Homo sapiens: one gene and its partners. The protein of the gene in region 1 purifies or fractionates together with the protein of each later gene. This does not show direct contact. Each region holds a gene or a part of one and is shown in the gene's direction. Other genes may lie near its edges.

Evidence for each region.
Region 2: the proteins of FAM217B (region 1) and CALR3 purify together in Homo sapiens (affinity purification with mass spectrometry; 3 studies listed by BioGRID and IntAct, with this or other methods). This does not show direct contact.
Region 3: the proteins of FAM217B (region 1) and CILK1 purify together in Homo sapiens (affinity purification with mass spectrometry; 3 studies listed by BioGRID and IntAct, with this or other methods). This does not show direct contact.

What each region holds. Positions count from the first base shown.
Region 1 is NC_000020.11:59,943,384-59,949,206, forward strand, and holds the end of FAM217B (protein FAM217B), read left to right. Parts: intron 1-556; 5' UTR 557-560; coding exon 561-1,712; 3' UTR 1,713-5,297; downstream 5,298-5,823.
Region 2 is NC_000019.10:16,479,137-16,486,167, reverse strand, and holds part of CALR3 (calreticulin-3 precursor), read left to right. Parts: intron 1-910; coding exon 911-1,005; intron 1,006-2,052; coding exon 2,053-2,238; intron 2,239-3,382; coding exon 3,383-3,490; intron 3,491-3,586; coding exon 3,587-3,718; intron 3,719-5,461; coding exon 5,462-5,554; intron 5,555-6,893; coding exon 6,894-7,031. UniProt on the Homo sapiens protein: During spermatogenesis, may act as a lectin-independent chaperone for specific client proteins such as ADAM3. Required for sperm fertility. CALR3 capacity for calcium-binding may be absent or much lower than that of CALR.
Region 3 is NC_000006.12:53,002,794-53,009,824, reverse strand, and holds part of CILK1 (serine/threonine-protein kinase ICK), read left to right. Parts: intron 1-257; coding exon 258-386; intron 387-2,225; exon of another isoform or gene 2,226-2,336; intron 2,337-3,387; coding exon 3,388-3,510; intron 3,511-4,521; coding exon 4,522-4,676; 3' UTR 4,677-7,031.

The sequences.
Region 1 (5,823 bases):
AAGGTACAGGTTTGTATGTGCAATACTTTTATATATTAAAATTTCACTCAGCTCAGAATCGCCACCAATCAGTGATTAAACTGCAAAACTTGCATGTTTATTTGATATTTACACTTAATTTAAAATAGGTGTATAAAATAAAACTGTTTTTACTTCTGAATGTTATTAAATGCTTTTGATGGTAACAATTCCAGAGTTCTACGACTGATTTTTTCCAAACTAATGTTTTTTTTTTAAAGTACACACGAAAGTATGAAACAAGCACTTTGAGAAATGTTAATGTTTTTCCTAAATGCTAATATTTGATATAAAATGGAAACTGTGCATTCTCTTTTGTCACATGCATTATATAATGTATCTCAAATAGAGTATTATATGGGAAAATGTTCTGTAAAATTACTTATGCTTTAAGGAGTTTGGAAGCTGACATTTTCTAATGCCTACTAATAGCTGAGACAAAAAAAAGTACAACTAGAAGATTCTTTTTGTTTGTTTAATTATAGCCAGACCATTTTTTGTCATATGTGGTAAGAATTGCAGTTTTATTTTCTCACAGCAATATGAATGCTGGCCCATCTTGGAATAAAGTGCAACATTCAAAGAATTCTTCAGGAAAAAGGCAGAGTAAATCCCAAGTACCCCACGCTTCTTCCCAGCCGAGAAGCAGCCTCACAGCTGTCACCCAGCCTACTGAAGAAAAACTTAAAGAAAGCATTTCCCCGGAAGCAAGACGCAAAAGGAATCCACTCGGTTCCAGGTGTCAGGGGGCCTCAGGGAATAAACTGTTTCTTGATTTTCAGTCAATGAAAATTATTAAAGAGAATGCTGATGAGGACAGTGCAAGTGATCTCTCTGATTCGGAAAGAATTCCCATTCCTCCTTCTCCCCTCACACCTCCAGATCTCAATCTTCGAGCTGAAGAAATTGATCCAGTTTACTTTGATCTTCACCCTGGTCAGGGCCATACAAAACCTGAATACTATTATCCTAATTTCCTTCCATCCCCTTTCAGCTCCTGGGACCTACGAGATATGGCCCTGCTTCTGAACGCAGAGAACAAAACGGAAGCCGTGCCCCGAGTGGGAGGACTTCTTGGGAAGTATATCGATAGACTTATTCAGCTTGAGTGGCTGCAAGTCCAGACTGTACAGTGTGAAAAAGCAAAGGGGGGCAAAGCAAGGCCCCCCACTGCCCCTGGGACCTCAGGGGCACTGAAAAGCCCTGGGAGAAGTAAGCTAATTGCTAGTGCTCTGTCCAAGCCACTACCTCACCAGGAAGGGGCTTCAAAGTCAGGCCCTTCCCGAAAGAAAGCTTTTCACCATGAAGAAATCCACCCATCACATTATGCATTTGAGACTTCCCCTAGACCCATTGATGTGCTTGGTGGTACCAGGTTTTGTTCTCAGAGGCAAACCCTTGAAATGAGGACAGAAGAAAAGAAAAAGAAATCAAGTAAGAGTACGAAGCTGCAGCGCTGGGATCTGTCCGGCAGTGGAAGCAGCTCTAAGGTGGAAACCAGCGGTCACATTCGAGTTCCCAAACAGGCAGCTGTGATTCTGGACTCAGCAGATTCCTGTAAGGCCTCCAAAACACAAGCACATGCACATCCTAGGAAAAAGGGAAAGGCAGAGAGCTGTGGTCATGCCACTGTATCGAGTGAGAAAAAACTGAAAACAAACGGAGTAAAGCAAAACACATATAAACTAAAATAAATATCTAAAATGCTGAATTGCCAAGACCTGCAGGTACCTCAATGTTAGAGCGCTTCCAAAAGTCAAAATACTGTGAATTTTAAGGAATTTTACAAATACTGACATTTAAGTAGTTGACTGGCATTTTTGTCCACCTTTATTTCTACCCTGAGTGGGGTTATTTTCAAAGGGAAGTGTCTTTCAATAAGCCTTTCTTTGTATTGTCAGTCTTAGGCAAATGAGAGCCCTTTAGATAAAAATTATGTAAAATATGTGCCATATAAAGGAATAAAATGGCACCTCTCCAGGGAAAGTGTCAGTGAAACCTCAGCTACAGTAGCCGGTCTGTGTAGAGCAGCTAGTGGTGTTACCTCCCCATTTTCACATGCACGTAAGTATATGAAATAGTGCAGACTGTTTCAAATGGTGTGGAATCCTAAATGTTTAAAATAAGGTCCTTCTTGCCCACTCCCTCGCTTACTTTTTTATAAACTCCTCAAGCAAAATTTCTGTTCATTTTACCCTTAGGAGAAGCTTTAGTTCTTCCTCAAGTCAGGGAGTAGTGAGTTTGTATTTTGAGTAGTCATTTCTCACTAAGCTGGTTGCTTTCTAGAGAGACAGTGGAATCTAGTACTTTAATACATTTTCTCTGACATGGTTTTTTTTTTCTTTTTTGAGGGGCATTTTAAACTTAGAGGTGGTGGTAAAACCTACTTTTGAGTTCTCCGAACTGAGGTTAAAATAACTTGCAGAATTTTCCAAAGTCAATGGGCTTAGCATGATTACTGCTGTTTGGTGGGGCTGAGAATGAAATATTTGACATTCTGGAATTGCTGGCATGTAAAGCTTCTCCAGAGAGGCACCCCAGGGAAATCACTCTTTACAATTTGTAAAGGAAGGGCCTGTAAAAGGATCAAAACACATGGACCTACATTCAGTGTAATAGTTACAAAGTTACTGATTTGGGTTCCACACCCTGTGGTCCTTAGTCAAAAATAATGATCTGTTTCAGTTTGCAAGAGCAGGATTTTATTATTTTGCTTGGGGTGAGGGGCGGGAGAGTGGAATATGAGTAAGGTTGCTGAATGAATTCTAAACTCGCTTATCTGGTCTTCAGGCTTCCCAACTCTCTCCAAGCCTTCTTATTTCACTGCAGTTAAATAACATCTTCTTGTTCCTATAGTTGTGCTGTGAGTTTTCTGTTCATATTTGCGCAGTGTATTTTAATACGGCCCATGTCATTATAGTTGATTTTATCCCTTTAAACAATTACTGTATTTGTTTTTGACGTAGAGGTTTCAATTTTTTCACCTTGGGGGCAAATGAAAAACTTGGCATTTTTCATTTGGGAACATATAATAGCTTGTAAACTTTTCAGACAGCAGTAAATGTCTGAAAAAATATCAAAAACAGCATAAAGACAAGATTATGTAGCTCTAATTATACGTATATAATTATAAAAAACAATGTGCAAGGGTTATATTTTAAGGTCTTTTAAAATCTGATTTTGATCATACCAAATGACATAATATTTTTTATGGTAGCCTTTTACTTTCAAGACTTAATTTTCAGACTTGTACAAGTTCCTTCTTACATTCTTTCCCTCTCACACCATCCTACTGGAGAAAGCATACTTTTATGCTAAGATCTTACTTTAAGCTTTTTATGTGAACAAAAGATGTACATATAGTAAGTATTACTTCCGTAGTCCTCAAATTTACTATAACTTTTGTACTTAGTATATGTTTTATATTTGGAAAACAGCACTACGCTTAGTTTTCCTGTAGTTCCTGAGTGATGTCTGTGTGTTCCTTGCCTGCCCTTTTTTGTGAGCACAGATTAGTCTGTTATCCATGGCTGGCACTTCACTTATGATCCTTTCTCTGCTAGATTTTTATGCAGCTCTCTATGAAGTTTCATGGCCCATAGATATTCAAAAGCAAGATATTCTATACATATGTGTATATGTATATATACTCCTTATGTTAATACTAAAGTGTTTATGCTGAGTTGCTGCCTTTCCCCGTCATGTATCCATGTGCATGCTCTTAGAGACCTTGAATGGTTGAGGGTAAAGTGATTTATTAGTAATTCTACTTGCCTTGTGTATGTCTGAGCTGAAAACAATCGTGATTAAGAAATTTAGAGGTGGCTGGGCGTGGTGGCTCACGCCTGTAATCCCAGCACTTTGGGAGGCCGAGGCAGGCGGATCACCTGAGGTCGGGAGTTCAAGACCAGCCTGACCAACATGGAGAAACCCTGTCTCCACTAAAAATACAAAATTAGCCGGGTGTGGTGGTGCATGCCTGTAATCCCAGCTACTCGGAAGTTTGAGACGAGAATCTCTTGAACCCGGGAGGCGGAGGTTGTGGTGAGCCAAGATCGTGCCATTGCACTCCAGCCTGGGCAACAAGAGGGAAACTCCGTTTCAAAAAAAAAAGAAAAAGAAAGAAATTGAGAAGTAACGCCTCATAATATTTGTTCCCAGCTTTTTAAATTGAAGCTGGTTGCATAATCTGGGGAATAGTCATAATTTCATGTGTTATACAGTTTAAAAAGCCTGCAAAAGTGACTTTGCTTGTTTACTTTCTGCCTCAGATTGACTATTTTAACCAATATTGTCACGACTAGATCATAGCTCCTAGTGAATAACATGAGGTGTTTTAAAGTTAGGTCTATTACAGAATTAACATAAGCACAATTTTAATTTTATGATATCTGATATGCCTATCTAATACATCTTAATGCATTAAATGCTGCAGATAAGAATCTTGCTATTTTTCAAGTAGACAACATTAGAAAGTTGAATCATGAACTCATTCAATTCATCAAGTCAAAAGCACTGAGTGTTTTGCTAGTCTAGTGACATGGGTTATTGTATTTCCGAGAAGTGCCTCTCATTTCTGGGGAGTTGTTTACATATACCCTGCATTTAAACCAATTAAAACAATCCAAGTTTCTTTAAAAAAAAAAAGAAAAAGAAAAAGAAAAAGAAAAATATTTTAGGCTTAGAATTATCTAATGGAAAAAATGTAAAAAAGTACAAAAATGAACTAAAAGTATATCAGTATTTGCAGTATTTGCTGTGATTACTTAGGTTTAGACTTTCTCAACTTCTTAGATGACTAAATGGGCTGAAGACTTGTAACTAACTTGAATAGGATAGACTTCATACCCTGTGACAAAAAGGATGGGGAAGAGAATATCATTGGTCTTGCCATATACCTCCTAGCTAAAAGGAAAATGGTTTGTAGTTGTTCTTGGGCCTACTGTGTTGCTTTTCAGAAGGACATAAGACTTTCTACTTTATCTGATATGGATATCGTCTACTTCCTCATTCCTTTATGCTCACTTATGGAGTAGTTACATAGAAATATAACTCTTGGTGGTACTGTATTTTAAGGTAATTCAGAAGCAGTATGTATTATTTATGTACATGTACAGGACACCATTCAAAATGGCTTGAAAATATTCAGCATGTTTGTTATTTGCTGTTATATTGTATGTTTAGTTTTGTATGTGATAAACAGAATTGATGTAAGTTTTTGTGGACTTGAATTTCTCCTTCCTTGAGATCAATTAAACAGCAGAAAAATATTGTCTGGATTTTTCTGGTATTGTTTTGTTTTGCTTTTCATGCAGTTCTCTTCTGAAGCTTGCCTTTATTTTCTCCCTGGTTATTTAAAGGAATTGCCCAGGATGAAATGCTGTTACAACTCCTGTCTTAACACTAAGCGACATGGGTGGCCAAAGCACAGGTTAACATTACCGGATATATCAGAGAAGCATTGCAGTACATTTCTTGAGTCGCTCTTCCACTTACTACTCCATGTTGAGGATTAATTAGGGTAGCAGGATGCAAATTCAGTAAGCATAAATTAAGGTAACCTGTGATGTAATGAACTTGCACCTTTATGTACATATCCGGAAACGAGTACCATCTCTTTCAAGGAAGTGGCCTGGTTAGGAGATAGCAGTTTTGAGCAGCTCCAGCTGCAAACATTCTCAAAAGCCCTTTGCTCTTCTTTCTAACTTCACTCTGACAATAGGGTGCATTCTTTTGAGTCTACCAAATTGTGGCAGTAATGTTCAGTGGCTTAAAAAGTAAGTTTTTGGATATGTTTTGAAAATT
Region 2 (7,031 bases), on another chromosome or scaffold:
ATTTTTGTATTTTTAGTACACACGGGGTTTTACCATGTTGGCCAGGCTGGTCTCAAACTGGCCTCAAGTCATCTCCCCACCTTGGCCTCCTAAAGTGCTGGGATTAGCAGGCCACTTTGAATATTTAAATAAGCTTCAGAACACACTCAAAAGTGAGTGGAAAGCCAGGACATTGTCCTTTAACAACAATAATAAGATATTCACACATGTGACCAGATGCAGTGGCTCACACCTATAATCTCAGCACTTTGGGAGGCCAAGGCAGGCAAATCACTTGAGGTCAGGAGTTTGAGACCAGCCTAGCCAACATGGCAAAACCTGTCTCTACTAAAAACACAAAAATTAGCTGGGCCTGGTGGTACATGCCTGTAATCACAGCTATTCTACTCGGGAGGTTGATGCAGGAGAATCACTTAAACCCGGGAGGCGGAGACTGCAGTGAGCCAAGATCCCACCACTGCACTCCAGCCTGGGCGACAGAGTGAGACTCTGTCTCAAATAAATAAATAAATATCTTAGTGTGAATATCTGATTATATGTAAGAAGAATGGACTGCACGTGGTGTTTCAAGCCTGTAATCCTAGGACTTTGGGAGGCCGAGGCAGGTGGATCACAAGGTCAGGAGTTTGAGACCAGCCTGGCCAGCATGGTGAAACCCCATCTCTACTAAAAATACAAAAATTAGCTGGGCATCGTGGCATGCGCCTGTAGTCCCAGCTACTCAGGAGGCTGAGGCAGGAGAATTGCTTGAACCCAAGAGGCAGAAGTTTCCGTGAGCCAAGATCACTGCACTCCAGCCTGGGTGACAGCAAGACTCCGTCTCAAAAAAAAAAAAAGAATGGTTGTGGGTTGGTTATTCTACGGTGATGCATTATGGAAAGAAATTGAGAGCAGCTAATCTTTTTTGTAGGACCCGATATTTGTGGATTTGATATCAAGAAAGTTCATGTTATTTTACATTTCAAGAATAAGTATCACGAAAACAAGAAACTGATCAGGTGTAAGGTAACTGCTCTTGTATTCAAATAAATGAGTGTTAACTCCTGCCAGACTAAGTTTAGAAAAAATAGTTTTGATAATAAAATACTTAACTGAGCCAGGGATGGGTCTTTGTAGACATACCTCCTGTTTCCAGTTTCCAGTTTAGGGGGCCCATTGGAGATACTTCTCTCCTTTAACTGGTTTCCTGAAGTTTTTACCCCATCAGGAGGGCACTCTCATTTTTTACTGTGAGCTATGACATGTCATCATTTGCCCTATGAGGGTTACAATAGTACAGTCACATTTCAGCCACATCCATCCTCATTAATGAATGAAATATTCAGGATGAAAAAAACATTCTGGAGAAATGTCTGGGTGCAGTGGCTCACACCTGTAATCCCAGCAGTTTGGGAAGCTGAGGCAGGAGGACTGCTTGAGCCAAGGAGTTCAAGACCAGCCTGGGCAACATGGCGAAATCTTGTCATGACAAAAAATACAAAAATTAGCCAGGTGTAGTGCCAGGAACCTGTGGTCCCAGCTACTGGGGAGGCTGAGGTGGGAGGGTCACTTGAGCCTGGGAGGTCAAGGTTGTAGTGAGCTCTGATTGCACCACTGCACTCCAGCCTGGGTGACAGAGCAAGACCCTGTCTCAAAAAAATAAAAATAAAAATAAACTGCATATTTAGACTTGCATTAAAACATCGAGAGTTGGCCGGGCGTGGTGGCTCATGCCTGTAATCCCAGCACTTTGGGAGGCTGAGGCAGGTGGATCACCTGAGGTCAGGAGTTCGAGACCAGCCTGGTCAACATGGTGAAACTCTGTCTCTACTAGACACAAAAAATTACCCAGGCATGGTGGCAGGTGCCTGTAATCCCAGCTTCTCAGGAGGCTGAGGCAGTAGAATCGCTTGAACTCAGGAGGTGGAGGTTGTAGTGAGCCGAGATTGTGCCACAGCGCTCCAACCTGGGCGACAGAGTGAGACTCCATCTCAAAAAAAAAAAAAAAAAGAAAAGAAAAGAAAAAAGAAATTGAGGATTTAATTGTTACGCTTTTCCCCCTAAAATATGCAGGTTGATGGCTTCACACACCTGTACACTCTAATTTTAAGACCAGATCTTTCTTATGATGTGAAAATTGATGGTCAGTCAATTGAATCCGGCAGCATAGAGTACGACTGGAACTTAACATCACTCAAGAAGGAAACGTCCCCGGCAGAATCGAAGGATTGGGAACAGACTAAAGACAACAAAGCCCAGGTGTGAATTTTTCCTGGGCAACTCTAAAAAGTGCACAAATGTAGTTTGTAAGTACCCAGTTACTGGACAATTGCTGCATGGCTGGTAGCCACGATGGCAATATTATAGAACCAAATGCCCTCCCCAGAGCACACACTGCAGACCAGCCACATCTCTACACATCTGAAGGTATCGTAAAACATTTATTTATTTACTTATTTATTTATTTTTTGAGACAGAGTTTCGTTCTTCTTGCCCAGGCTGGAGTGCAGTGGCGTGATCTCAGCTCACGGCAACCTCCGCCTCCCAGGTTCAAGTGATTCTCCTGCCTCAGCCTCCCGAATACCTGGGATTACAGGCACCCGCCACCATCCCTGGCTAATTTTTGTATTTTTAGTAGAGATGGGGTTTCACCATGTTGGCCAGGCTAGTCTCGAACTCCCGACCTCAAGTGATTTGCCTGCCTTGGCCTCCCAAAGTGCTGGGATTACAGGTGTGAGCCACCACATCTGGCCATCACCATCACTTTTTGCACCATCATTTTTCACTCTAGCCACTACTTGAGGTTTCCACACCGCTGCTCCTCTCCATAGCATGCAGGAAAGGGCTAAAGTCATATGGCAGGTTAGGGAGAAAAATCTAGGCAGTGTGGTGTTGCCCTGAAGTCCTCAGTGGGATTGGAAGCACCAAGCACTTGGCCTCCTGACCACCAAACTGAAGAAGGGAGAGGGACACTGGGACAGGGGTCACCAGCCTGTGCCTGCCACTTGGCATCTAATAATTTCCTTTCTCAAATCTGAGCATCTGGCTGGGTGTGGTGGCTAATGCCTGTAATACCAGCACTTCCAGAGGTCAAGGCAGGAGGATCGCTTGAACCCAGGAGTTCGAGACCAGCCTGGGCAACAGAGGGAGACCCTGACTGTACAAAACATAAAAATAGTAGCCAGGTATGATGGCGGGCGCCTGTAGTCCGAGCTACTTGGGAGGCTGAGGCAGGAGGATCACTGGAGCCCAAGAGGTTGAGGCTGCAGTGAGCCATGATTGCACAACCGCACTCCAGCCTGGGTGAGAGCAAAACCTAGTCTCAAGAAACAAAAACAGAAGCAACAACAACAAATATATGAGCATCTGACTGATTTTACTTTTTCCTTACATGTCTTTGAAGGACTGGGAGAAGCATTTTCTGGACGCCAGCACCAGCAAGCAGAGCGACTGGAACGGTGACCTGGATGGGGACTGGCCAGCGCCGATGCTCCAGAAGCCCCCGTACCAGGTGTGTGGCCTCTTTGTATGATGCCAGGGATGCCCCAGGGCTGCCCCTCCGCTGCCCATGTCATTGAGACCACCCCATATGGTTTTTTTGATACAGGATGGCCTGAAACCAGAAGGTATTCATAAAGACGTCTGGCTCCACCGTAAGATGAAGAATACCGACTATTTGACGCAGTATGACCTCTCAGAATTTGAGAACATTGGTGCCATTGGCCTGGAGCTTTGGCAGGTCATTTGGTTTTAACTTTACTTTAGATTTTTTGCGTGTGTGTGTTTTGTTTTGTTTTGTTTTGTTTTGTTGAGACAGGGTCTCATTCTGTCACCTAGGCTGGAGTGCAGTGGCACCATCCTAGCTCACTGTAGCCTCAAACTAGGCCCAAGCGATCCTCCCACCTCAGCCTCCCAAGTAGCTAGGACTACAGGCACAAGCCACCACATCCAGATTTTTTTTTTTTAAGAAATGGGAGTCTAGGCTGTGCGCGGTGGCTCACTCCTGTAATCCCAGCACTTTGGGAGGCTGAGGCGGGTGGATCACAAGGTCAGGAGATCGAGACCATCCTGGCTAACATGGTGAAACCCCGTCTCTACTAAAAATACAAAAAAAATTAGCCGGGCGTGGTGGCGGGCGCCTGTAGTCCCAGCTACTCGGGACGCTGAGGCAGGAGAATGGCGTGAACCCGGGAGGCAGAGCTTGCAGTGAGCTGAGATCGGGCCACTGCACTCCAGTCTGGGTGACAGAGCAAGACTCCGTCTCAAAAAAAAAAAAAAAAAAAAGAGATGGGAGTCTCAGAACTTCTAGGCTCAAGCAGTCCTTCCACCTCAGCCTTCCAAAGTGCTGAGAGTTTTGTTTGTTTTTTTGTTTTAATGCTTTGGTGATCCCAGCTGGGCTCAGTGGCTCATGCCTGTAATCCCAGCACTTTGGGAGGCTGAGGGGGGCAGATTGCCTGAGCTCAGGCGTTTGAGAGCAGCCTGGGCAACATAGTGAAACTTCGTCTCTACTAAAAATACAAAAATTAGCTGGGTGTGGTGGTGCGTGCTTGTAGTCCCAGCTACTCAGGAGGGTGAGGCATGAGAATAACTTAATCCTGGGAGGAATCACTTGAACCCAGGAAGTGGAGGTTGCAGTGAGCCAAGATCGCGCCACGGCACTCCAGCCTCCGCAACAGAGTGAGACTTCACTTCATCTCAAAAAAAAAAAAAAAAAAAACAGAGCGAGACTAAGTCTCAAAAAAAAAAAAAGTTTTGGTGATCCCGATGTGCAGCCACGTTTAAGGAACCAGTGCCTTAGAGGGAAAGGATATTCTAGAAATGGGTTTAAGCACCACCTACTATTCTAATTGCTGTTATAGTATACACTACTGAGCAAAATACAACTGTTTCTTTTTGAAAAGTTGTTACATATGTCACATCAATAATGAAGGCCTAGTAGCCAGGGACAGTATGGCTCACGCCTGTAATAGTCCCAGCTACTGGGGAGGCTGAAGTGGGACCATCACATGAGCCCAGTTCTTTTTTTTTTTTCTTTGAGACTGAGTCTCACTCTGTCACCCAGGCGGGAGTGCAGTGGCACGATCTCAACTCACTGCAGCTTCTGCTTCCCGGGTTCAAGCGATCCTCCCACCTCAGCCTCCCAAGTAGCTGGGACTACAGGCATGCACGACCACACCTGGTAATTTTTGTATTTTTAATAGAGATGGGGTTCACCGTGTTGGCCAGGCTAGTCTTGAACTCCTGACCTCAAGTGATTCACCTGCCCCAGCCTCCCAAAGTGCTGGGATTATAGGTGTGAACCACCACGCCTGGCCAAGCCCAGAAGTTCAAATCCAGCCTAGGCAACATAGCAAGACCCCATCTCTAAAAAATAAAAAATGTCACCTGAGCTTCATGTATTTCCAAAGGAAAAAAGAAATGAAAAATAAACAAATAATAAAGAATAAAAGCATAATAATGAAGGCCTTATTTTCATCTGCAGGTGAGATCTGGAACCATTTTTGATAACTTTCTGATCACAGATGATGAAGAGTACGCAGATAATTTTGGCAAGGCCACCTGGGGCGAAACCAAGGTATGAAGCACGTGATTAACTCTTCCTACATCACTATTTCATTTGTGTAAATTTTTTTTTTTTAGATGGAGTCTAGCTCTGTCACCCAGGCTGTAATGTAGTGGCATAGTCTCGGCTCACTGCAACCTCCACCTCCCGGGTTCAAGCGATTCTCCTGCCTCAGACTCCCAAGTAGCTGGGACTACAGGCGCATGCCACCACGTCCGGCTAATTTGTGTATTTTTAGTAGAGAGGGGGTTTCACCATATTGTTCAGGCTGGTCTCGAAGTCCTGACCTCAGGTGATCCACCTGCCTTGGCCTCCCAAAGTGCTGGGATTACAGGAGTGAGCCACTGTGCCTGGCCCCATGTAAGGTTAATATTGGCAGGTTCCAGGGATTAGGACATGAATTTTTTTTTTTTTTTTTTTTTTTTGAGACGGAGTCTCGCTCTGTCGCCAGGCTGAAGTACAGTGGCGTGATCTCGGCGCACTGCAACCTCCACCTCCCGGTTCAAGCGATTCTCCTGCCTCAGCCTCCCGAGTAGCTGGGACTACAGGCACCTGCCACCACACCCAACTAATTTTTGTATTTTTAGTAGAGACGGGGTTTCACCATATTGGCCAGGATGGTCTCGCTCTCTTGACCTCATGATCTGCCTGCCTCGGCCTCCCAAAGTGCTGGGATTACAGGTGTGAGCCACCGCGCCCAGCCAGGACATGCAATCTTTACAGGTTCTTCTTATTCAGCCTATCCTAGGTGGTGAGGAGGCTTCTAGAAGGCAGGGTCTGCCTGAGTACTGACATGCATTTGGCCACATGGAAGCATAACCCCTGGCCTCTGGGGCTTTTTTTGTTTTGTTTTGTTTTGTTTTGTTTTGAGACGGGTTTTGCTCTGTCACCCAGGCTGGAGTGCAGTGGTGCCATCTCGACTCACTGCAACCTCCGCCTCCTAGGTTCAAATGATCCTCTCACCTCAGCCTCCCGAGCAGCTGGGACTACAGCCACACACCACCACGCCCAGCTAATTTTTGCTTTTTTTTTTTTTTTGAGACAGAGTCTTGCTCTGTCGCCCAGGATGGAGTGCAGTAGAGTGATCTCAGCTCACTGCAAGCTCTGCCTCCCAGGTTTAGGCCATTCTCCTGCCTCAGCCTCCCGAGTAGCTGGGACTACAGGCGCCCACCACCACGCCTGGCTTTTTTTTTTTTGTATTTTTGGTAGAGACTGTGTTTCACCGTGTTAGCCGGGATGGTCTCGATCTCCTGACTTCGTGATCCATCTGCCTCGGCCTCCCAAAGTGCTGGGATTACAGGCACGAGCCATCGCACCCGGTGGGGCTTATGTTTTTTCTTTCTTTCTCCAGGGTCCAGAAAGGGAGATGGATGCCATACAGGCCAAGGAGGAAATGAAGAAGGCCCGCGAGGAAGAGGAGGAAGAGCTGCTGTCGGGAAAAATTAACAGGCACGAACATTACTTCAATCAATTTCACAGAAGGAATGAA
Region 3 (7,031 bases), on another chromosome or scaffold:
GGATGGCACCAGAGGGCCAAGAGGTGGGACAGATCCATTGGATCTTAGAAGCATAAGAGGCCTCTCTCGGGCCACCAACCAGTGAGATATCTTTCCTCGGACATCTGTCAGATGACATCATCACAGTCAGTTTTTGCTTTGATTATTGTATCATAGAGAGTTTTTGACAAATTGAGTTCTGCATTAATTTTATCTTTGTAGTCTAGTGTAAGATTCATTGTGTATTTTGCATTTTAAAATCATTTCTTCTCTATCAGGGATCAGTATAAGAAATGGCATACTCTCGAATCCAGGCAAGGAATTTATTCCACCTAATCCATGGTCTAGTTCTGGCTTGTCTGGAAAATCTTCAGGGACAATGTCAGTAATCAGCAAAGTAAATTCAGGTGAGTAATGATCATTAACCCCTAAATGGCAAAAAGCAAATTCCCTGGATGCAGGAAGGTGGGCACAAGGAGTCATGGGACGGGCTTTGGAAGCACAGGGGCCTTTGTCATCTGAAAGCTCAGGCCTCTTTTCCAGCCCTATCCTCCTCTCTTTCTCGGCAGCAGTCCCTTGGGACTCAGCCAGCTCCCAGGGGAGTCTGCCTTCCAGGGTAGCTGGGGAGTAGAGCATAGTCATCCCTGGCTCAAGGGAAAAACAAAAATACCTTTACAGACTCTTACTAGGCCTGATGGCTAAAGCCCTGGCTGCAGCAGGCACCCTCCTCTTGAGGTGGAAGTCACCCTTGGCTGTGTCTGCCTTGTTCCAGCCTGTCCCCTCCTTCTGATGACCCAGCTGCAGGCCCAGAGTATCAAGATCCCTTCTAGTTGGAAGGTGGACAGTTTGGAAGACCCTCCCCACTTTTTTTGTTAAACGGATGAATGAATTTACTGAGTCCCAAGGCTGACAAACCCTGTTCACAGTAGAGACGTTTCCTGCATCATTTTTCCCTGATGCAGGCAGCCCCTGCCATGTGCTGCTTTCCCCTCTGCACTGCCAAGTGCACTGCCTTCATCCATTAGGTGTTTGTTTAATTTAAGGAAAATAAAAAAGAAAGAGATAATATAGCAACACCTGTGTAGCCATCACCCAGCTTAAGAAGTCAAACTTTGGCCAGGTGTGGTGGCTCATGCCTGTAATCCCAGCACTTTGGGAGGCTGAGGCTGAGGCAGGTGAATCACTTGAGGTCAGGAGTTTGAGACCAGCCTGGCCAACATGGTAAAACCCTGTCTCTACCTAAAATATAAAAATTAGCCAGGCATGGTGGCAGCAGGCCTGTAATCCCAGCTACTCAGGAGGCTGAGGCAGGATATCACTTGAACCTGGGAGGCGGAGGTTGCAGTGAGCCAAGATTGCGCCACTGCACTCCAACCTGGGTGATAGAGTGAGATTCTGTCTCAAAAAAAAAAAAAAAAGTTGAACTTGGCAAATACACATGAAGCCCAGTGTCTGTGCCTTTCCCGCCTCCCTGCTTCCCCTTACCTCCCCCCATGCCAGCCTGATCGAGTGTTTATTTAGGTTTGTATAAACTTCATAGTGTGGTTTTGCAGGTTTTAAAATTTATGTGAAGATAATCTTGGATCACTGCTTCATGCATTTTAATAAATATATGTGTAGCAATTATAGAGATATATATCATATATTATATAACATATACAATATATATCTATACAACACCATAACTTATTATTTATGTGGACCATAATTTATGTATGCCTTCTCTTCTTGATAAATACATAAGTTGATTGCAATTTTTGCTATTAGAAAGAGTGCTGAGATGATTATTGTACCCCTATTGTTATGCACATGTGTGAGGATTCCTCTGGGTACGAGAACTAGGAGTCAACATTTTATTTTATTTTATTTTATTTTATTTATTTATTTTTATTTATTTATTTATTTTAAGACGCAGTCTTGCTCTGTTGCCCAGGCTGGAGTGCAGTGGCATGATCTCGGCTCACTGCAACCTCTGCCTCCCTGGTTCAAGCAATTCTCCTGCCTCAGCCTCCCAAGTAGCTAGGATTACAGGCATGTGCCACCACACCCAGCTAATTTTTTTTTTTTTTTGTATTTTTAGTAGAAACAGGGTTTCACCATGTTGGCCAGGCTGGTCTCGAACTCCTGACCTCAGGTGATCCACCCGCCTGGGTCTCCCATTGTGCTGGGATTACAAGTGTGAGCCACCATGCCCAGCCAGAGTCAACATTTTAGGTTAAAGGGTGTGCTCATCTTCAACTTCACAGATATTGCCAAACTACTTGCTCTCCAGCGGGATATGGGAGTTGCTCTGCATCCTTGATGCCACTTGGTACTGTCAAGACTAAAATTTGTGCTAATCTGATGAGTGAGAAATGGTATCCTATTGTGGTTTAAACTTGCATGTCCTATTTACTAATGAGGTTCATCATCTTTTCTTGTGTTTATTGACTATAAGTTTTTTCTCTTTTGTGACTTACCTGTTCAAATTCTCTTCCCATTTTTCTTCATGTTTCTTCATTCACCAAAGTACAAAATACACCCCAGCTGACCAACGCAACTCCTCACGCAGGCATTCTAGACTGTGTTTCCACTCTGCCTTAAACAATTGCTGAAAAAGCTCTGTGTTGTGAAAACAGAGCAACTCTACTACTTACTGACTTTTCTTAATGGTTAGAATTTCCATTTCTATAACGGGCAATAATAACAGTCTTCATTATTCCATGTGTACCTTTAAGCCTAAATAATAAGAATTATATTCATTCACCCATCCAAAATTAATTGATTATCTGCTATATGCAAGGCATTCTGTTATCCTCCCCAGAATACCAAGACGAGTAGCATACAGTCCCTGCCCTTAAAGCACTCCCAAGTGGAAATGACATAAAAAGTTAAGGTATTTCACATTGTAAAAAATGGTTAATTTTTCTGATGTGGATAAGAATATTTAGTGTGTAATTACTTGTCACAGCTAAATAATTTAATATAACCTGTGTGTTGATCAATAAGAAAATGGTTAAATGGATTATGGTTTAGCCATACTCTAGAATTTATATGTACTCACATGGAAGGATAACTATTCTATATTATGGAGTGAAAAAAGCAAATTTTAGAATAGTCTAAATCTACTTTTACAAAAGAAAATAAAGAACAAATGTCATATTTCCCTTTTTTAAAAAAATTTCACAACCAACCCACCCTCTATTTGGTTGCCCCTCACAGGAGCAGCACTGTCTTTGGCCCCCGCAGTCTTTCTGACAGGGTAGTATGGTGGGATGCTTGGCTCTGAACTCATTTTTATCATGATTTGCTCTTTTCCCTAAAAGTAAAAACTTAGTTTGTTATTGCTCTGCAGTGCTGTCATTTAACCTTGTTGGTGTCCTGGGTACATGTCTTTGTAATAATGAGCTTTTTGCTTTTGCAAATCAGTTGGTTCCAGCTCTACAAGTTCTAGTGGACTGACTGGAAACTATGTCCCTTCCTTTCTGAAAAAAGAAATCGGTTCTGCTATGCAGAGGGTACACCTAGCACCTATTCCAGACCCTTCCCCTGGTGAGTTGTATTTTAAATTATTCATGAATTTACTCAACAAATGGTTACTCAACAACTGCTTTGTGCCAGGCATGTTTTAGGCCTGGGATCCACCAATAAATGAAACTTGCACTCTACAGACAATAAGTAAGCTAAATAAGTGCTATATAACATATAGTAAGTCAGATGCTTACTGACTTAGTGCTAAGGAGAAAAATACAGCAGACAGGAGGTAGGGATTGTGGGGGTTGGAGTGTGGGGTACAGGTTACAATTTTAGATAGAGTAGCTAAAGAAGAGCTCACTGCAAAGGAGTTGTTGAGTAGAGACCTGGAGGAGGTGATTGAGCAAGCATACAGTATGAGTGAGGCTTTTCCAGACAGGAGATTGTTCTGTGCTTGAGCTTTCAGGCAGAACTGGCCTGGCAAATTCAAGGAGCAGCAAGGAGGCCAGAGTGTGGGAGTGACAGGAGTGAGAGGGGGAGTAGCAAGATGAGGTCAGGGGTGATACGATGCCTGTAAGCACATTGTCATGGATTCTGAGTGACGTGGAGTCCCTGGAGGGCTTTGAGTCCATAAGTGAGGTGATCTGACAGCCATCTCCACAGGCTCCCTCAAGCTGCTGTTGTCATGAGACTGAAGTAGGGGCAAGGTAGGAAGCAGGGAATCCAATTAGGAGGATGTTGAAATTATCCAGGTAAGAAATGATGCTAGCTTGGGCCAGCGTGGTAGTAGTTCAGTTGGTAAAAAGTTGCCAGGTTCTGTAAATATTTGGAAGGTAGAACTAATAGGATATCCTGACAAATTATATGTGGTATATGAAAAAAAGAGGGGTCAAGAATGATGCCATTATTTTTGGCCTGACAACTTTAAAACGATGTCTTTAACTGCAGTAGAGAAGATTATAAGTAGGAGACAAGATGCTCCTCTTGAACTCCTTATTTTCTCATGTTTTTGTCACCAAAATGCATTTATTTGTACTTTGCTTACATTGGCCCCATATCAGTCATGCCGGCCTTTTTCTTTCATTGCAGGTTATTCCTCCCTGAAGGCCATGAGACCTCATCCTGGGCGACCATTCTTCCACACCCAGCCTAGAAGCACTCCTGGGTTGATACCACGGCCTCCAGCCGCCCAGCCAGTGCATGGCCGGACAGACTGGGCTTCCAAGTACGCATCTCGGCGATGACTGTCTGCCTTGGTGATGAATCTCTTCCTAGGGAGAAGCAGGATACTTTCCCTCAGCTGACTGGTGTTCTACCTGCAAGATGTGCAGAGGGCATAAAAGCAAATCAACACTTTATAGTTATTCTTCTGAACTAAGACATGTCAATATTCTTTTTTAAAGTTTTTTTTTAAAATATTGATTTGAATGCAGTAGGCTTTTTTGTATAAAATTATTTTATTCTAAAACTGGGTCCCATTATTTTCTTAAACAACAGCATTTTGTATATATGGATTATGTTTTAGCATTTTATACAGTCAACTTTGTAATGAACTTTTTAAAAATTAATTGATTTTCCTTTGGGGTTCCAGATAATATTTTCTACAGATTTTGAAAAATGTAATAATATTAATGCAGTATTGCAACAGGGGTGCAATTTAAGGCTATGTGATAGAGGGTTATTTACTCAGTGTGTGCAGATATTTATGAAGTGGTGAAATTTCAAGTGTGGCTCACTAGGTACTTCAGGCCTTCTTGGACTGTTGTTAGAAAAGTGATCCTCTGCTTTTCTTAGTAGGTCATTGGTTTGATTTTTGGATACCACTCTGCTGTTCTAAAAGGACTATTATATTATATAATTCACTTTGTTTTACTTTTGTTCCCCAGATGAAAGAACTCTAAGTAAATACATTTTAAAAAATTTTTCTGACACCCTTTAATGTGGTTGCAGATCTCAGATGAAACCAAGCTTAATTATACTATGCCATTATATTCTAATTTATTCCATTTTTGAAATCAAGTTGTATGTGTACCAATAAAAGAGATTTCTGCTTCAAAAGGCTCTCAACATGAAGGTTAACACAGTCAATCAAACTTACATTCCTGCCAAGATGCATGGCCAAAAAACTAAGTATCAAAGCAGCAGAAGGTTTTTGATTATAGTAACTGAGATGGAATTTTGTGCCTAGCTCAGTTCTCCAGATCTGGCTAGGAGCAGTCAATGACTAATGTTCTGTCCTAGCCAAATTCTCAGGACAATTTGGGGAGCAGAAAGAGTTATGGCAGAGGTTCCACTCATCTACAAAGTCACAGTCACATGCCACATTTGATCTCCTAACCCTGGTGTAGTTTCTTTCAAGAGTGAGAACTTTATTTGTTGGGCAGAGGCTGTTCCATTGAGAGGAATGTTTACAGCAGTTTCAAAAATGACAAAGTCAGTTTGGAGACAGAAAAAGACAAAAGGTCCAGTCTCATCCATCTCTATATGGTACATTTGCCTCACTTATGGTTGCCTTAAAGGCAAGAGGGAAGGTCACCATCAGTGAACGCAATGCAATCTCAACAGTGTATTGATTCATATTCTCCTAGGGCTCAAACTACTCTCTATTGGTTCCAGGATAATGACAAATTGAACCATATGTAAGTAATCTTTTATTTTTTATTTTTTTTTTGAGACAGAGTCTCACTCTGTCACCCAGGCTGGAGTGCAGTGGCGCGATCTTAGCTCTCTGCAACCTCTGCCTCCCAGGTTCAAGCCTCCTGAGTAACTGGGACTACAGGCGCCCGCCACCACGCCCAGCTAATTTTTTGTATTTTTAGTAGAGACGGGGTTTCACTGTGTTAGCCAGGACGGCCTCGATCTCCTGACCTCGTGATCCACCCTCCTCCACCTCCCAAAGTACTGGGATTACAGGCATGAGCCACTGCACCCAGCCAAGTGATCATTTTTATAGGTTAAAATGATAGGTGAAATGAATATAGACACTTTCATATGGTTCAACCTAATGACTTGGTAAATTATTGCCTTGGTGTATTAATAATATGTTGCATTCTGAACAAATAACCATGGCTTCCAAAGGGCCCTAACCTAAAATCGGAGAGTAATTTATGCTTTGGAGAATTTGACTCAAATATATACTTGACCAAGCACCATGATCCCTAGGGGCATGAGAAAAGCACATAATGGATGTGGATGTGATAGGTGGTCTTTTCCTGTTAACAAGCTGGCAGCAAAGCTTCAGAAAATATATATGCAAGCACAACTTGAAGCTGAATTCATTTCTGTATTATATTCTCAACTCGTTATCTAAAGCATCAGAACATGTGTTTTCAGAGATGAGTCCTTTACTATAAGGTTAATATTTATTTTCATTTTCTGTATTATATATGAAAAGTAAATTAATGTGAAACCTGGCCCAGCTTGCTGGAAAGCAGGTTTTAAATTGTAAATATTCCTTAGAGGAGCAAATGGATTGTTTAATACCATAGTCTCAGTAATCTAGCTTATATAAGGTCATTACATTTTTTAACTGAAAAACCTAGTTACCTGATTATTGCACATTATAAAATTGTTTTTCTAATACTTTATAGGGCCCAACT